Regions from separate parts of the Homo sapiens genome. Here region 1 is linked to region 2. The links come from fine-mapping of genetic effects on gene expression. A gene starts in region 2. The other region holds a variant in brackets. All regions are shown on one strand. Distances are between the middles of the regions.

Region 1 (8,753 bases), 26 kb before region 2:
CAGCAAATGGCAAACATGACTGTAGTCCTAGAGCAGGGGTATCAACAGTTTGGTGAAACAGCAGCTTTTTCACAGGAGCCTTTCACTCCTGTGTCAATGAATGCTCACATGATGCTGCCCCACAGAGCAGCAGTCTTCCCCAGGCCAGGCGAGGGGGCCCAGCATCAACGTTCTTTCTCCATCCCTGGCACAAACTGGACGTGAGTGCACCAGCCTGGCTTTGGGGGCAGCAGCCACGTTCACAGCCTGGCTCTGCCACTGTGGCTAGTGAGCACTAGGTGTGAAGATACCCACCTCACAGGCTGCAAGGGCATTTTGCTGTACACAGGAAATTCAGCTGCTGCCATTAGTGTGGTGGTGGTGATTACGAATCTGCTTACCTACTGCTTTGCAGTGACATCTCTGTGGCATTTATAGACAAGTGCGTGGTCTTCCCAAGTCAATGGATAAGTAGCAAGTTCAGGTCGGAAGTCACCCCCTTTGATCTTTTGTGGTGCGCCTGCATGTTGTGCAATGCTGTACAAACAGTGGGCCCTACAGGGACTCCTGGGGAGGGAGGACAGTAGCAAATCTGAGGCTGAGCTGAGACAGAAAAGCCTAACTACCAACTCACGGGCTAGGACTGTGTCCTCTGTGAACCTTGAAAGCACCTCACTATCCAGCGCCAAGTCCCAGTGTCGAGGGACAACTCACAACCCACACACAGTGCCTTCGTGGCCCCCAAGCAGTCCATAGTCACTGTGAGCAAGGCCAGCTCTGTCACTTTCTCCTCCTCAGCAATGGCAGAGGTGTTAACTACTGGCAGGCAGGGTAATCAATCACTGTAGTAAGAGGCGAGGGGGCTACTGAGAGCTCCTCAGAGTGTCTGGAGGGCTGCAGAAATGGGTGTGACAGATACAGGATAGGAACACGCACTCAGCCCCCAGCTGCCATGGGTGTGGACAATGCAGGCAGCAGTCTATTCAGAAAGGCCTGAGTTCTTGGTTCAGATGCTGAGTATCCATTTGTGCTTTTAAATATGCTCACTTTGAAAGAAGATAGAGTATAAATCTTTTGTTCTTCCTCTAGGCAAACACTAAGAAGCTTGGGGAAAACTGTGTTAGGCTTATACCACCAGGCATCTCACAGCATTGTGTGACTTGGGGGTGGGTGGGTGGGGTGGAGGTGGGGACTCCTCCTACAGGCCCAGGGGAGAGGCAGCAGGGCACAGAGGGACAAGAACCAGAGCAGGACCAGCACCGTGACCCATCCTGACCTGCAATATGACGTAAGCGCTGGTCATATGGACCAGTTGCCATGCTAAGCACTTTATGGGTCCTATCTCTTTAATTTTTCTTTTTCTTTCTTTTTTTCTTTTATGGGGCAGGTACGGAGTTTCACTCTTGTCACCCAGGCTGGAGTGCCGTGGCGCGATCTCGGCTCACTGCAACCTCAGTCTCCAGGGTTCAAGCGATTCTCCTGTCTCAGCCTCCCATGTAGCTGGGATTATAGGCGCATGCCACCATGCCCAGCTAATTTTTATATTTTTAGTAAAGACGGGGTTTTCATCATATTGGACAGGCTGGTCTGGAACACCTGACCTCAGGTGATCCGCCTGAGGCCTCCCAAAGTGCTGGGATTCCAGGTGGGAGCCACAGCGCCCGGCCTCTCTCTAATCTTTCTAACCACAAGATTCAGATATTGTTTTTCTTCCTCGGTGACCTGTGTGAGTCCTGGGCCTTCTAGGAACTCAAAACATGACTTTGGCAAGTTGTTTCACCTCTCTAGCCCTCAGTGTCCTCACCTGTAATGAGGAACACTGACCTCTTTTTCTGGATACCCACCACTGGACTGGTGTGAGAATTGTATCAGTTACTGCCCAGAAGTGCATCAACTGCTCAGCAGCTCCTGAGACCATGGCAAGGCATCACCATGGCTGACAATGTGGAATCAGTCTTCCCAGGTTCAACTGCAGCTCTTCCTTCTCAGCAGTGTGACCTACAGACAGGCCATATGATGTCTCTGAGCCCCGTGCTCCATCTTTAAAACTGGGAGAGCGGTGCATACTCCCCACATGAGATGCACCTGTGAGAAGGCAGGTGAAGCCTTTTGCTCTTCCTGACTGCAGTGAGTGGCAGTGTCTGTCCTTGGGCTCTGGGTCACATCCTGCACCCTCTCCTCAGTCCCTCTGGAGCCAGTTCAAGGGTGTTTCTATTACAGACACAAGAGTTGTGGTTATTTGTAGACTCATAATAAATACAGTCCCTAGTAAGTGAGAATGTAAACCCTTTAAAAGATATGAAAAAGGTGACTGCTTTTAGAATAGACAATAATGGCAAACATAAGATGGGGGAAAGGAAGGAAAGGATGTTAACACCTGTACCAAGCCCTGAGCTAATTCAGGACTTTACTCAAATTCCCTCATGTAATCCTGAGACTCATCCTAAGCAGGGAAGACCATACACATGTCTATGAAAGCCACAGAGAGACAATTATCCCCATGCTGCAAGTGAGGAAACGGGCTGGGAGAAGGTGAGCAATCTGTGCAACAGCCCAGCAGGAGGTAGAGCTGCCCTTCCAATTCTAAGGCACCTGCTAGGCCAGGGGTGTCTCACTTGACATTGAAGCCCTAGGATAATTCATAAAGATTAAAAAAAAAAAAAAGAATCTGAAAAAGACCAAAAGCTCATTGAATAACTTACCTTAATTTGATCGATATTGTCACCAGATAACTCCTGAATGTGCTTGAGACTGTATGTGAGGCCAGAGGGACTAAAAAATGTGATGCTGGCTGGAACCCCCTGTGGGGAACAGAAAACAAGATCAGTCCTTGCCATGAGACTGAGGAGAGACAACATTCCTCCGGCTTCATCCGCATCAAGACCTCAAGCCACAGGCCACCAAGGCGGTTTTAGCACAGGAGTGGTTCCCGGCTGATGCTGGCATCCTCTGCTCCAGTGAGGCAGGATTCTGGTAGGGAACTGTTGGAAAGAGCAGGCTGCCATCAGAAAGCTGGTGCTGCCCCAGGTCTGTGTCTGCCTGGCCAGAGGACATGGGCATCCCGGAGCTCATGTGCCCAGCAGCCTAGACAATGCCTCTAGCTCCTGTGGTCATACGGCACTGATCACATGAGGCAGTGGTGTGAGGCAGTGCTGGCTCCCTGTCAATGCTCCCTCCCTCTGGAAGCAGAGCAAGCAGACAAGCCTGCCTGGCCTTTTTGCATTTGGTTTGTCCTATCAGGCCCTCCCAATACCAGGCAAGACATTCAGAAGCTTGCCCTGGGAGAGGAAAGGGAGGTGTTTTACTGCATATAAATGCTGAAGACATCAAGGAACTCAAGCAAGAGCTATCCATTCTCCTGCCTGAGTCCTCCAACAGTCCCCACGGACTCCCAAATTCAATCCAGACTCCTTGGTGGCCACTGTCAGCTCTTCCCACTATGGGCTCAGCCTCCCTCTCCAGTGTCTGCCCCTCCAGCTCCACCAGCATCCCCGTATGATGAATAGCAATGATAACATCAAGGCCACTATTTACCTCAGGGTTGTATGTATCTTCGATGCTGTACAAAAAGCTTTGCGTAAATTATCTCCTTTAACCCCTATAAAAACTTACCACTTCCTCAAAGTCACCACATTAATCTCTCCAAAGAGGGAGATTTCATAGACCACCTACTACAAGCACCTCTTACCGAAATCACTGATTTCAAACCAGCTTGCAATAGACATTTCATGAAACAACCACAAAATTGTTTCCATTCCTAATTCTAGAATCCCAGACCAACTATGTGACAGGAAAAGGCATGCAGGTGACAGCTGGGGACAGTGAAACCACATATAGAACCAACATCTATCAGCTCGTGCCCTTCACCCTCTGCTTCCCCACCTGGGCACCCACCCTGCCAGAACCGCCCCCAAACGCCACGTACCTGCTGGGAATAGTAGCTGTTCAGGTTCCCTTGGATTCCTGGGTGTGCAACTGTCTGATACACAGTTATGCTTTCCATGGCAATCCCTGGGCACAATCAAAAGCAGGAAAGACTTTACCGCACTGGGCACACAATGGGGCCTCCACCACTTCACAGCACAGTTGGTGAAACCTCCCAATACAGCACCACCCTCCTGGAACGAGCTGCTTGGAAGCTGAGAGGCCAGACTCAGCAGAGAGGCCTTGAACAGTCCTCTGCAGCCTGCTAAACGCTGTGGAGTGGTCCGGTGGAAGAGGAGGCTGAGACGGCAGAAAAAGAACAAAGGCCCAGAAACCAAAGCCTTCATTTGTACCCAGAATGCCTTTTGTTCCCAGGCTTATGTAGGTTTGTCCACACAAGGCCGTCCCTAGTCACTCCATGGATCCCACACAGACTGGTTGCATGACACCAGCAAGTGTAGGAAGGGCAGCTCTTGGGAGAGGCCTGGAGTCCAGATCCCCGGCTGCACTCCAGCTGTGCCTCCACATGGCCACGCGTCCCCTCTCTGGGCCTCAGTGTGTCCACTTGTACAAGAACTGATTAAGCCGTGGACTTTCCCACATTCCTCCCTGTGCCATTCAGCGACTCTGAATATTCCCAGGGGTTTTCAGGGCTGGTGATGAGG[C/T]GCTAGGCACTGAAGGGACTCACGCAATTTCAGTCAGATATTGACTTATGAGGGGCAGCCAGATGGTAGGTGAAAAGTAGTGAAAACTCAGGCTTCTGAAAATAAAATGGGAAACTCTCTCAGAAGAAATGATAACTTCAGCATAAAACAGCAACCTATTGCCATTTCATATCCCTGAAAACTAAAGAAATAAACTGAAGTATCAAACCTCTGATTTATATATTATTTCTTTAAGGGTAACTGAGACCAAGCTTTCTCTTATTTTATCCTGGTATTTTCTTGTTCCCGAAAAGCTAATGATTTTGCTGATCTTATTACCTAATGTCCTCTGCCTTTATTCCTGGTAGCTTTAGAAGACAGATGATATGGGTAGAAGGGATACGATCTAGCTCCATTTTAATACGGGGGGAAAGTTACAAGGTCTAAGGTCATCCTGGGTCACACTGCTCATGTGGACTATTAGAGCTTCAAAACCCTGGGAGAGACAGTAACAGTCATAGTTCCATGGAGAGCTTGCCTTTGGAGAACAAGGTGTCATGCTACATGATCTCTGAACACCTCTATGAGGCAGGTACCATGGTTATGTACAGATAACCATATTTCACAGATAAGGATACTGATGCACAGAGAGATTACATCACTTACCTTCATTCACATAGCTAATAAACAGCAAGAGGGAGAATTCAAATCTGTTTTTATCTCATCCGAAAGCTGGTACTCCAAACCACTGATAGACTTTGCTCCCAGACTAACTATGTGACAGCAAAAGGTGCGCAGGTGACAGCTAAGACATCTGCATCGAGGACGGCAGCATGCTTCAGAGGCAAGAACTGGTTTCTAGGTGCTGACAGTCTTGGGAGCCACGGCAGGTGGAGCTGGAGGGGCAGGTGGAGCTTGTGTGGCTCGGCTGGAGGGTGCTGCATGCTATTATAAGATCGGCTACATTTGTAGACTTTCTTCTACATGTGGAACCAATTCTATGGTTTGTCACCTCAGTTATCTGCCCAGGGGCCACCTCCACATCTCGATCTCCTGTCCTCTTGGTGAAGGACTGGAGACACACTGTGTGCTCCTAGCTTGAGCTAACAAGCTGGGAAGAGTGGATCCAAAGAAAGGAAAGTGCAGACTGCACGTCCACTCTTCCCATGAGCATGGTCTCTGTGTCTCCTGGCCTGGCTTATCCAACCCAGCCCTGCTCTCCCTTGTGTGCTCTCTGCAGGGCCACCCACTTCTATCACTGCAAAGGCTCCTGGTGGATCCCAAAGTGGTAAGGGATGCAGTCAAAGCATTCTACTCGCCTTTGTCCTTGAGCGCTTTTGGCAGGATTTCTCTTTTGAGGTTTCCACAGGGAAATAGAAGAGGCAGTGCTGAGGACTCCCCTGTGAATAAATAACCAGGCTTTGTGAAAACTCAGGGCCAGTGCCTGTGCACAGGGGAATGGGGAGGGGCAGCTTTGGGAAGGGGGAAGCAGCCCTGGGCTCCAGGCCTGGCTCTGCTTCTAGGACTCAGTTTCAGCATCTGTAAACAGGAAGAGCACCTGCTACCTTGCCGAACTTGAAGGGTTGTTATATGAAGATCATAAGAGGTAATGTGTGTGGAGGTGCTCAGAAAATGAACATCCACACAAACAAGTTAGCCACATTCTTTTAACTCCTTCTGATCCTGAAGTGACTCCCTAGCCTGCAGTCACTATTTAGAAGGCAGACTTTGCACCTTAACTAAGTCAGGAAGGTGAAGATCAGGCCTGGTGCTGACTGGCACTGGGGCAAACATTTTCTACCTTTAAAGAGGCTCCAGATGAGCCAGGGCTCATGCTCAGGAGGCAGCCGGTAACCGGCAGCCAGGAGTGGCTCTGCAGCCACCCCCAACAAAGACAAGCTCACTGCCCACTCCTCTTCTAGCCACACCAACAGCCACTAGGCCAAGTGCCAAAAGGCGAATGCACAGGCCTTAGAGAGAGAAGCCTGCTAAGAACGGCCTGCCTCTCCTTTCACCACAACCTCTGCTCCCAGCATCTCCACTCTGGGAAGACTTAAGGGCATTTTCAGCCCTTAACTCTTTGCAGAATAGTGAGGACAGCATAGGATTTGAATGCCAATTTGCAACAATACTGTCCAAAAAAGCTGATAAGTTGTCAAATGCCAGAATCTTCCCCAAATGTGAAAACACAGCATTTTAGTAGAACCAGCCATTACCCCCCACATCCATCCGTAAGACATAAGAAATTTTAATGGGCGTTATTCATACACATTGTATATTTTCTCACATCCTTATGATCTCTCTGATCACATCTTCTCTGGTGACTACAACGAGAGGAAGGAGCAAAACAACCCCTTTCCATCCAGTACCACCTCTAGCAAGCAGCAGCCAAACAACAGGAATAACTGCAGGCCACTTAATTTCAAGTGTATAAAGGCTACATACTGGTGAATGTTTTCTTTATTTAAACTGCTCTGTAAATATCTGTACCAACATAAAATAAAATAATGAATTGGGAGATTGTTAAATTCGTTAATAGATGCCTGCTGATTTCTCTCTTCCAGTGCGAGGAAATGTTTTCATGCTCTGCATCCCTAGAGACATATTTTCAAAGCCATGTTCAGAGGCAATTTTCTTCCCCGTTTCTGTGTGTCTATGTGTGTGTTGGGGAATGCAGGGTGGAAGATGTTAGGGGCCAAAGCTCTTCCTGGGGATCCAGTAAGAGAACTACAGTCCAGTTTTTCAGCAAGCCCAGCCCCACAGGTGTGCGAGGGGCCTTGGAAAGAGTCAGGAATCTTCCCTTGGCAGCACCTCTTGTGAGGGTCCAGTGGAGTCCTGAGCTGCTCATTCTTATCTCTGACTCACAAGGCTGGGCCGAAGGGGTACGCGGCTCCCTGAGGGCAGCTGCTTGTCTCTATCTCTCCACCACCTGTGCCTTGCAGAGAGCTTGGCTCTGCAGGCACACAGGGCCCACAAATGTCCAACCAGCTCAGCTGACTTCACTGAAAAGGCACCACCCTGTCAGCAGAAAGGAGAAAATTGAAAATGTCCTGGCTGAGTCCTCCTTTGCTGGTGAGGAGAGATCTACAACTACATGTCCTGAAAACTAGCCCACTTCAAAAAGCCAAAGACAAAGGAGTTATTCCCTTTTGGAATATGCTTAATGCCTGGGGATTTATCTTCAGCCCCAACAGGCCAATGGGATGGTTAAGGCTGACACAGAGATAGTGAACTGTGGAGCTCAAAGGCTCTGCTCTCCGTTCGTTTAACAGGAAGAAGGCCTGGAATTCTGGGCTGTCCGGGCTGATGATGAGTAATAACACTGAAAATCCTAACACAGTATTATTATTACGCAGCTCAGGAGGGGGCTTGATAAAGTCACTGCAGGCAATTAAGAAAATGATGATACAAGCAGGAGGCAGACAAATGCCTAGGCAGATAGGGAAGGGTCCCCGGTGAGACCTCACCTTCAAGCCCAGAACAGCCTGAAGTCTGAAAGACCAGATTGCTGGTCCCAGATGAAACCAGCGACCCAGGGGCAGAACGTCTGCCCGTTTGTCTGCCCTTTCCCAATTGATTCTTTCCGAATAATGCCTTTTAACCAATCAAATGTTGCCTTTTCCGATACTACCTATGGTTTACCTGGGCATCCTCGTGTGCGTGCTGGGGGAACGGGGCGGAGTCACTAGGATTCGCACCTTACGCAGGGGAGGAGCCTGGCCTCATCAGCTCATGTGTGGTACCCCTGGTATTCAATAATGAGGGAGAAACCTGCTTGGAGAATCCCTCTCTTTGTTGAGAGCTTTTCTTTCTTTCTTTCTTTTTTTTTTTTTTGTGACGGAGTCTCACTCTTTCACCCAGGCTGGAGTGCAGTGGTGCAATCTCAGCTCACTACAACCTCTGCCTCCTGGGCTCATGCAATTCTCCTGCCTCAGCCTCCTGAGTAGCTGGGATTACAGACGCGGCCACCAAGCCCAGGTAATTTTTGTATTTTTAGTAGAGATGGGGTTTCACCATGTTGGCCAGAACTCCTGACCTGGTCTCAAACTCCTGACTTCAGGTGATCCACCTGCCTCGGCCTCCCAAAGTGCTGGGATTACAGGAGTGAGCCACTGCGCCCAGCTGAGGGCTTTCCTTTCACTTAATAAGTTCTGCCCTTCTCACCCTTCAATGTGTCCACATGCCTAATTTTTCCTGGTCATGAGA
Region 2 (8,833 bases):
AATTTTAAAAGTTGTTAACAAGGAGCCGGGCATAGTGGCGCATCCCTGTAGTCCTAACTACGCAGGAGGCTGAGGTGGGAGAATCACTTGAGCCCAGGAGTTCAAGGTTGCTGTGGGCTATAATCGTGCCACTGCACTCCAGCCTGGGTGACAGAGAAGGATCTTGTCTAAATAATAATAATAATAATAATAATATAAAATTAAAAGGTTCTGTTGTTGATGATTCTTTGCTGTGCTAGAGTCACATATTATCAGGCTGATTGGGAAAGAAATCAATTGAGAAGCGTGCACAGATAGGTTAACATGTCGCCACCTTGGGCTTTAGGAAGAGGCTTGGTGGAGTAGAGGGTGTTTGCACAGGAGGGCCAGTGTCTGGGTTCTGGTCTAGGCTGCTCTTGCCTCAGTCTCAGTTTCAGATTCCTGTACATTGGAAAGGGGCTGTGAGCCTCTCCATTGTTGGCTTTTTTGATGGACTTTCTTTCCTGTAGTAGATGCTCATTATTTGCTCACCTTGTGGGAAAACAACAATTTCAATTTTACCCAGCATCTTTGAAACAGAAAGAATGATTAATTTTCCTTAAAGTAAAATGGAGCACTTGTCCTTCAAGTTGCCTGCTTAGGTCTCTCCCAAGCATACTCTACTTTCTTTCCTGTTCTAAAGTTTTTTGTTGTTGTTTTTTGAGATGCAGTCCTGCTCTGTCGCCCAGGCTGGAGTGCAGTGGTGCAATCTCAACTCACTGCAACCTCCGCCTCCCGGGTTCAAGCGATTCTCCTGCCTCAGCCTCCTGAGTAGCTGGGACTACAGGCATGCGCCACCATGCCCAGCTAATTTTTGTATTTTAGTAGAGATGGGGTTTCAGCATGTTGGCCAGGATGGTCTCCATCTCTTAACCTCGTGATCCGGCTGCCTTGGCTTCCCAAAGTGTTGAGATTACAGGTGTGAGCCACTGCACCCGGCCTAAAGTTTTTTAAAATAAACTTCCACTCCTGCTCTGAAGCTTGCCTCGGTCACTTTTTCTGCCTTATGCCCCCAGTTGAATTTTCTTCTGAGGAGACAAGATTGAGGTTGCTGCAGGTGTCTACTGATTTGCCACTGGTAACATATTTGGTGCCACGTGACTCAGATGGTAAGGGATCTCTATGCCTCGCTTTCTTCTGCTGGAGGCATCTGATCCCTGTGCAGTTTTTCTTCTCCTCCCTCTCTCCTGCTTACTAAACAACCCCCAGAACAATTCCTCTTGGCCATACGTGACTCTGCTCTCTGCCAGTTGATTTCTTAGCTCACTCTGGTGGGTGGCTCATGGGAGTGGGAAGGACCCTAGGGTCTGCATCAAGCAGATCAGAGGCACTATATGGCCCTCCTTGATAGGAGGCTTGAGACTGGTGAGGCTAGGGCCTAAAAACCGTGCAGTGTCTGGGGTTTCCTCTGCCTTTTTTTCCAATGAAAATAACGAAACCTGTTATTTCCCATTGAGGGGGAAAAAGGCGGGAGAAGCCCCAGCAGAAATGAAGCTGCTCCTGAAGCTTCCAACATGAAACTCACCTCGGCACTGGTAAAAAGAGGGCTCAACCTGTCTCTAGATTTACAGTCTAATGCTTGCTCTGCCATTTTACCCTCATACTTATGTTCATCAATCATTGATGAAAAAGAAAAGAAAAAAAAAATGACTGGAATAAGGGCACCTTACTGGTAAGAAAGAACCAAACCTCAAACCCGTACCTTCTATGTCATGGTGTTCTGGGTATCAGCAATAACAACAGTCACCCTTTTACTGAGCATTTACTCATGTTAATTACTGGGTGTATTAGAGTTCTTCAGAGAAACAGAACCAATGGCATATATTTACATCTAGAAAGGGATTTGTTATAAGGTATTAGCTCATGCAGTTATGGAGGCTGAGAAGTCCCATGATCTGCTGTCTGCAAGCTGGAGACTTGTTAGCAGGAAGGCTGGTGTTGTAGCCTGAAGGCCTGAGAGCCAAGGGTGTAGGTTCCAGCCTGAGTGTGAAGGCCTCAGCACCAGGAGCACCAAGGGCAGAAGATATCCCAGATCAAGCATGCAGGAGGAGACAGGACACATTCTTCCTTCTTTGGCTTTTTGTTCTATTTAGGCCCTCAACAGACTGGATGCTGCCCACCTACTTTGGGGAGGGCAATCCACTTTACTCAGTCTATCCATTCAAATGCTCATCTTTTCTGAAAACAACTTCACAGACACACCAAGAAATAATGTTTAACCAGATATCTGGGCATCCGTGATCCAGTCAAGATGACATGTAAAAGTAACTATCACACTGGGCTAAGCATTTTACATGCAAGACTGCAATCCTCACTTAAACCTGCAAGGTAGGTGGTGTTAGCCTTATTTGCAGGAGGTGAAACCAAGTCCCTGGGAGGTTTGAGTAACTTGTCCCAGGTCACACAGCACAGTAAGTGGGAGAGATGGAATTTGGATCCTGGTCTGAAGCCCATGCTCAGTCTCCTAACCACTTGCTACCATCCCTCTGCCTCATTAAGATAAATTCTGAGCTAAAGATGAACACTGAACGAGTGGTAAGCAATCTACTACCTGCTGAGTTCAGTTCCCTAGGGTCAGTACTGTATTTACTTTCACATTCACTATTCTAATTCACACTTTGACCATGAGCTCAACACTGGGAACTAATCTGAGGGCATAAAGTAAGGCTTTTTCCCCTACTTGTCTTACAAAAGTGATCCTGTTTACTGTGAAAGATTTGCAAACTACAAAAAAGTATAGTTCCTCAAAAAAATAAACATAGAATTACCATATGATCTAGCAATTCCCCTGCTACATATATACCCCAAAGAATTGAAAGCAGGGACTCGAACAGATATTTGATACTCATGTTCATAGCAACATTATTTACAACAGCTAAAATGTAGAAGTAACCAAAATGTTTACCGACAGATAAGTAGATAAACAAAATGTGGTCTATACATGCAATGGAGTATTATTCAGCCTTAACAAGGAAGGAAATCCTAATGCATGCTACAGCATGGGATAAACTTTGAAGACATCATGCTGAATGAAATAGTCACAAAAGGAAGAATATTGTGTTACTCCACTTACATGAGGTTTCTAGAATAGTCAAATTAATAAAGATGGAAAGTAGAAAGGTCATGGAGGGAAAATAAGGGAGTTGTTTAACTACAGTTTCAATTTTGCTAGATGAAAAGAGTTCTGCCAATGGATAGTGGTGGTGATGGTTGCACAATGTGAATGCACTTCATGCCACTGAACTGTATCTTTAAAAATAGTTAAGATGGTAAAATGTATGTTATGTATCTTTTACCACCATAAAAAAAGTATAAAGAAACAGGAAAAAAAATTGGCTATGGTATCTCAGTGCAACTCTGTTGATATGTTCACATGGTCTTTCTGAGTCTTTTTTCTAATCTTAGCCTTTTGATGGGTCTTTTTTGACAGCTTCCTCTCTTCTCCATTACAGGAACATGTTTTTGCAGTTGTGCGACCCAAAGAGGCCATTTCAAGCTGCCCCATCAGATGTGGAGCGCTGATGTGTAAGTATTACTTTAATATCCATGACATGGCTGGGTAGACAAGAGACTCCCAGGAAAGACCGAAATCACAGAACACGATTATGGGCAATCTGGGCTCCTGGGGACCTTTAGGGCACGCCATCTCGTACTGATGAAGGATCACTGATTTATCAGATGTTACCCTGCTTAAACAGAAGCAGCCTATTAGCGCAGCTCACACCATTCCTAGAATCAAACATATCCAACCCACCCCCCTCATTTTACAGAGAAAAATCAATTGAGAACCGCAGATCTTATTCCTAGAAAGCTGATGAACCCTGTTTCTCTCGCAATGGGAAGACCTGGCTGCCCCAGGCTGCATCCCCACCTGCCACAGGGGCTGGCGCTCGCTCTGCAGTTGGCCGCAGTCCCCTCCACTCTTCTCTCCAAATAGGCTCGGGTCTTTAACCTAGACTACCCCACTGGCCCCGAAGCATTTTTTTTTTTTTTTAGATAGGGTCTACCTCTGTCGCCCAGGCTGGAGTGTGGAGTGCGGTGGCGCGATCTCGGCTCACTGCAACCTCCGTCTCCTGGGGGCATGCGATTCTCCTGCCTTAGCCTCCTGAGTAGCTGGGACTACAGGCGCGCACCACCACACCTGGCTAGTTTTTGTATTTTTAGTAGAGATGGGATTTCGCCATGTTGGGCAGGCTGGTCTCGAACTCCTGACCTCAAGTGATCCACCCATCTCGGCCTCCCAAAGTGCTGGGATTACAGGTGTCCGCCACCACGCCCGGCTAATTTTTGTACTTTTAGCAGAGATGAGGTTTTGCCATGTTGGCCAGGCTGGTCTCGAACTCCTGACCTCTGGTGATCCACCCGCTTTGACCTCCCTAAGTGCTGGGATTACAGGCGCGAGACACCGGGCCCGGCCCCCCGCCGAAGCATTTTTAACTGCGGTGCCGGCTTTAAAAAAACTTTTAGGTCAAGAAATGCGCTCCAGAAGCTCGGCGAGGGTAGGCTGGGCAGGCGCCTTCCGTCACCGGCGCAGCGGTAGCGGCAGCGGACATCCCCGCCTGGGCAGGCCCAGGTCCGCGGAAGCCTCGGGGCCCTGGCCCCACTGTGTCACACACCGCCCGGGGCCGGGCCCCTGCACGCCCGCGGGCTTCGGCGTCCGTACCGGTACAGCGGGCGGCGACACCTACCTCGCGGGACCGTGCCCAGCACCCGGCCTGGCACACAGCGGGCACCCGGTCGGGGGGCGGTGTCGCGCAGTCCCAGCGAAAAGGCTGCAGGAGCAATGACAACAGGGGCGGAAGCCCCCTCCCCACGCAGCCCGAGGGGCCGCGGCGGCCACCCGCGCCGGGCCCCAGGACCCCGCACCTCAGACTGGGGTCGCGTGGGTGGCTGCGCGCAGCTAGGCGCTCGCGCATGCGCACCGCCATCCAGGCCACGGAATGAGGCCAGAGGTTAGATGGGTTGAACCACTACGGGAAGGGGAGGGGAAGCTTTGGGAGGAGTGATGGAGGGTGGAAAGCGGAAGAAAAAAGCAAGATGGGACCGCAAGCTGGACGTGACTGTAAGGGGTCATGGCTGCGGAATCCAGCAGGGGCATTGGGGTTGACGTGCACTCAGCGCCGAGCTTCTTCGTAGTTCCTCACCCCCTTGGCTACTATGGGCTGGTCCGGAAGGTCAGGCAAGGGGAAGCTGCGCAGGCGCAGTGTGAGCGGCAACATGGCGTCCAGGTCTAAGCGGCGTGCCGTGGAAAGTGGGGTTCCGCAGCCGCCGGATCCCCCAGTCCAGCGCGACGAGGAAGAGGAAAAAGAAGTCGAAAATGAGGATGAAGACGATGATGACAGTGACAAGGAAAAGGATGAAGAGGACGAGGTCATTGACGAGGTGAGAAGGACACGCTCCCCTAGTTGGTTTATACCTGAGAAAAACTTTTTGGCAAGCCCAGGCTGTGTAAAAATAGTGTAGGGTCTTCCCTGACCCTGAGGGTCTGTGAGGAGAAACTGGAGATAAGTTCTTTCTCAGGTTTCTCCTCGGTCTTTAACACACTGCAGCCATAGTAGTTATTTTTTAAAGGTCTAGTCCGGTCCAGTTAATCTCCCAACCCGCGTCCTCCCCGAAAAAGCCCGCCACAACAGGTGTGTTCTTCTCGTCCTCTTTAGTTCTCAGGCTGAAGCCTCAGATCCTGAATCGGCCACCCCGGGCTCGCAGAGGGGGCCCTCTCCCCTCGGGGCAGCAGCTGTCCTCCTCTTCACTCTGCGGGCGGCACTCACTTGGGCCCTCAGTTTCTTGAAGGCTCTTGCCGCGTTCTACCGTAGAAGCCTTTTCAAATGCTCTTCTTTATCCTGCAGTTTTCCCTTCCTTCTTCAGATCTCAGCTAGGCTGTATTTTCTGGCTCCTGGGGCAGCTGACCAAGTCGTGGGTAAATCTTTGGTTTCATAGTCTCATAGAACTGTGTTCCTTTCTTCAGACTAGGTCCTACCGTAGTGCCTGGCAATATAGGTACTTATTATTTGTTTAGTAAACAATTAGGACTGAATGATCCTTCAGCCTACTGAATGTTTAAATAGATACCTCAGCCTTAACTTGTCCAAAGCAGAATTTGTATAATAATTCATGCCCCTCTCTTAATCGTCACCATTTCTATAAATGGCCCCTAAAGTCACCAGCTGCTCTAACCCAAAACCTGGGGCTTAACTTTAATTCCTCCCTTTCCTCATCCTATATCCAGCCCATCAGTAAATCCTGTTATCCAGACATTTCTCAGCACTAATTCTGAGACCATCGTAGTCCACACCTCTATCATCTCTTGCCTGGACTACTATTTAATGTAACAGCTTTTAACCGGCGTTCTTTTCTCCATTTTTGTTCCCCTACAATCAGTCTATACTCCACTTACAGTCAGAGAGATCTTATAGGTCTGATCTCAGGCCTCTGCTTAGATTGCTGCATTGGCTTTCTAGTTCATTTACAAGAAAATCAAGAGTCTTCACAATTGAGGGACGGAAAGGCAGCCTAGATGGCTGGATCAGAATAAGGAAGAGAGAGTGATAGGAAATAAAATCAGAGAGGTAATCATGAGTCATGATGAGCATGGAGGGGAGCATGGAGAGAAGCATGGATGCAGGATTAGAGGTGACACCATGGTGTGGGTATGTGATCAATCTTCCTTCCCTTACAAATTTTACTTTGGCTCTATGCCTTGAATGCCATCTCACCATTTTTCACTTAGAACTTTGACTGGCTCTTTTATTACTTTTGGGTTATAGAAATCAATGCTGCTTGTGTTAACATGGGAAATCTATCACACCACCACAGTCTTAATTCTAAATCACCTGGGAATGAGGGACAGGGCTCTTTTCTACAAACGTGACTGTTCCTGCTGAAGCCATGTGGAGATGAGCCCATACCCAGGAAAAGGGTGCTGGACAGATAATCCATTTGCCGCCCATTTCCCTGGTGGTGCCATAATAGTCTGGGACAGAGGTCCGAGATGTCTGTCTAGACAAAGAAAAAAACACTAGATGAGCATTATTTACAGAATGTATTTATATCTAAGGAATAAGTTTAAGTCCTGAATAATGACAGTTTGTTATTTGGTTTAGTTTGATCCTGTTTGGAACACTCCCACCCGACCCCTTGTGTTTTGCTGCTCACATAATCTGGCTAAGTTAGCATTTGAAGTCTGCAAAGCTGGACTTAAAGAGTTCAAATTGGAGCTGGAATTGCTCTAAGCAATTCCAGGGCCTTGCAATTTTACAATTAAGGAAGACTTAAATATATACATAGTCAGGGTGGCAAGGTAAAAGGAGGTCTGATTTCCTCTGCGATGTTCTTCAGCTAAGACCTAAATTCTGAAACCGTTAAAACCTGAAGTGCCTTTAAATATATTATTTCATCAGAGCCCCAGGTTCATTGTGTCACTTATCAAGGTCTGATTTAGGGTCCTCAAGGACTAATCTTGTTAGTGTTTAAAAGCAACTAGGTTTTGTTTTTGGCATTTTAGTTCCATCTTCTAGATTCTGTTGTCTTGCAGATAGAGATCAGGGAGCCCAGCTACACATTCATTCTTCTAGTCCCTTGTACTCATTGTATTTCCTTCTGCCTTAGGGCCTTAGTTTGTGCTGTTCCCTGTACCAGGAACTCTCTTTGCTGTTTCTCGGTTTCTTGCTCAAATGTCACTTCAAGGAAGGCTTTCCTGACTGACTTCTTATTTTTTAAGTTGTTACAACATTGTGTACCTTTGTTTTATAGCACTTACATTTATTTCTATGAATATTTCCTTAATGCCTATATTCCTTCCTAAATCGTAAGCTGCACGAGAGCAGGATCATTTGTGTCTGCCTTACTAACCTTTTCATCTTGAGTGCCTGGCACAGTGCTTGGTACCTGGATTGATACTTAATAAATATTTGCTAAGCAAATGTAGTGTAACCTCAAATCCATGGGCTAAGTCAAGCTCTAGGCAATTCCAGGGACTTTTGAAGTGATTTTGATTTTTGCCCACCCTTGTAATCAGGAAAATAATTTATCCTTTGTGGCTGCCGTGTCTGGTTTATTTGAACTGGACTTTCTCAACATTTAAACTAGGTTACTCTGAGTGTTTTGTTTTCTCAGGCTTTTGTGTCACCTGAAGAAATAGTGTGAAGGTGCTTTGTATTCTTCACAGATGGCAATCTTGGCAATGTTTGCCTGTTTTAAAGTCTAGATGTTTGTAGTTTTTCTGGTAACAACTATTTTGTGTGTTATTTACAGGAAGTGAATATTGAATTTGAAGCTTATTCCCTATCAGATAATGATTATGACGGAATTAAGAAATTACTGCAGCAGGTATTGTCTTTTATTTATTATGCATAAATTTCCTCTTCTAAGAAAAATCAGGGGCCGGGTGCAGTGGTTCATGCCTATAATCTCAGCATTTTGGAAGGCCGAGGTGAGAGGATTGCTTGAGCCCAGGAGTTTGAGACCAGCCTGGGCAACATAATGAGAACCTGTCTCTACAAAAAAATTAAAAATTAGCCAACTGTGGTAGCACACACCGTTAGTCCTAACTCCTCAGGAGGCTGAGGCTGGAGGATTACTTGAGTCTAAGAGCTCAAGGCTGCAGCTATGAATGTGCCATTGAGCTCCAGTCTGGGCAACAGAGTGAGCCTCTGTCTCTAAAAAAAAAGAAAATTCAGGTCATTCAATACAGGCTCTCCCAAGTTCATCTTTTTAGAATTTCCATTTCTATCCTCTCCACCTTGCCTGGAAGGAAGAATTATTTCCTTTCATCTGCTAATTAGAGTTATTTTGTTTTTTTTTTTAATTCACAATTCTT

The links.
Region 1: its variant is fine-mapped to the expression of UROS in whole blood (TOPMed, PIP 0.97).

The regions. Positions count from the first base shown.
Region 1 is chr10:125,792,199-125,800,951 of GRCh38, forward strand. UROS (uroporphyrinogen III synthase) reads right to left here. Exons shown (of 10, transcript NM_000375.3): 7 at 5,867-5,947; 8 at 3,905-3,990; 9 at 2,682-2,780. Among named protein-coding and RNA genes, the nearest start is that of MMP21, 21 kb to the left of the region's middle. The variant C/T (reference allele first, on the strand shown) is at 4,569.
Region 2 is chr10:125,818,323-125,827,155 of GRCh38, forward strand. It overlaps UROS (uroporphyrinogen III synthase), which reads right to left and starts at 4,936. Exons shown (of 10, transcript NM_000375.3): 1 at 4,707-4,936. It overlaps BCCIP (BRCA2 and CDKN1A interacting protein), which reads left to right and starts at 5,224. Exons shown (of 7, transcript NM_078468.3): 1 at 5,224-5,400; 2 at 8,269-8,343. The coding sequence starts at 5,236. It overlaps MIR4484 (microRNA 4484), which reads left to right and starts at 1,418; the gene lies at 1,418-1,500. RefSeq lists silencers at 4,583-5,012, 5,769-5,988 and enhancers at 4,864-5,549, 5,093-5,292.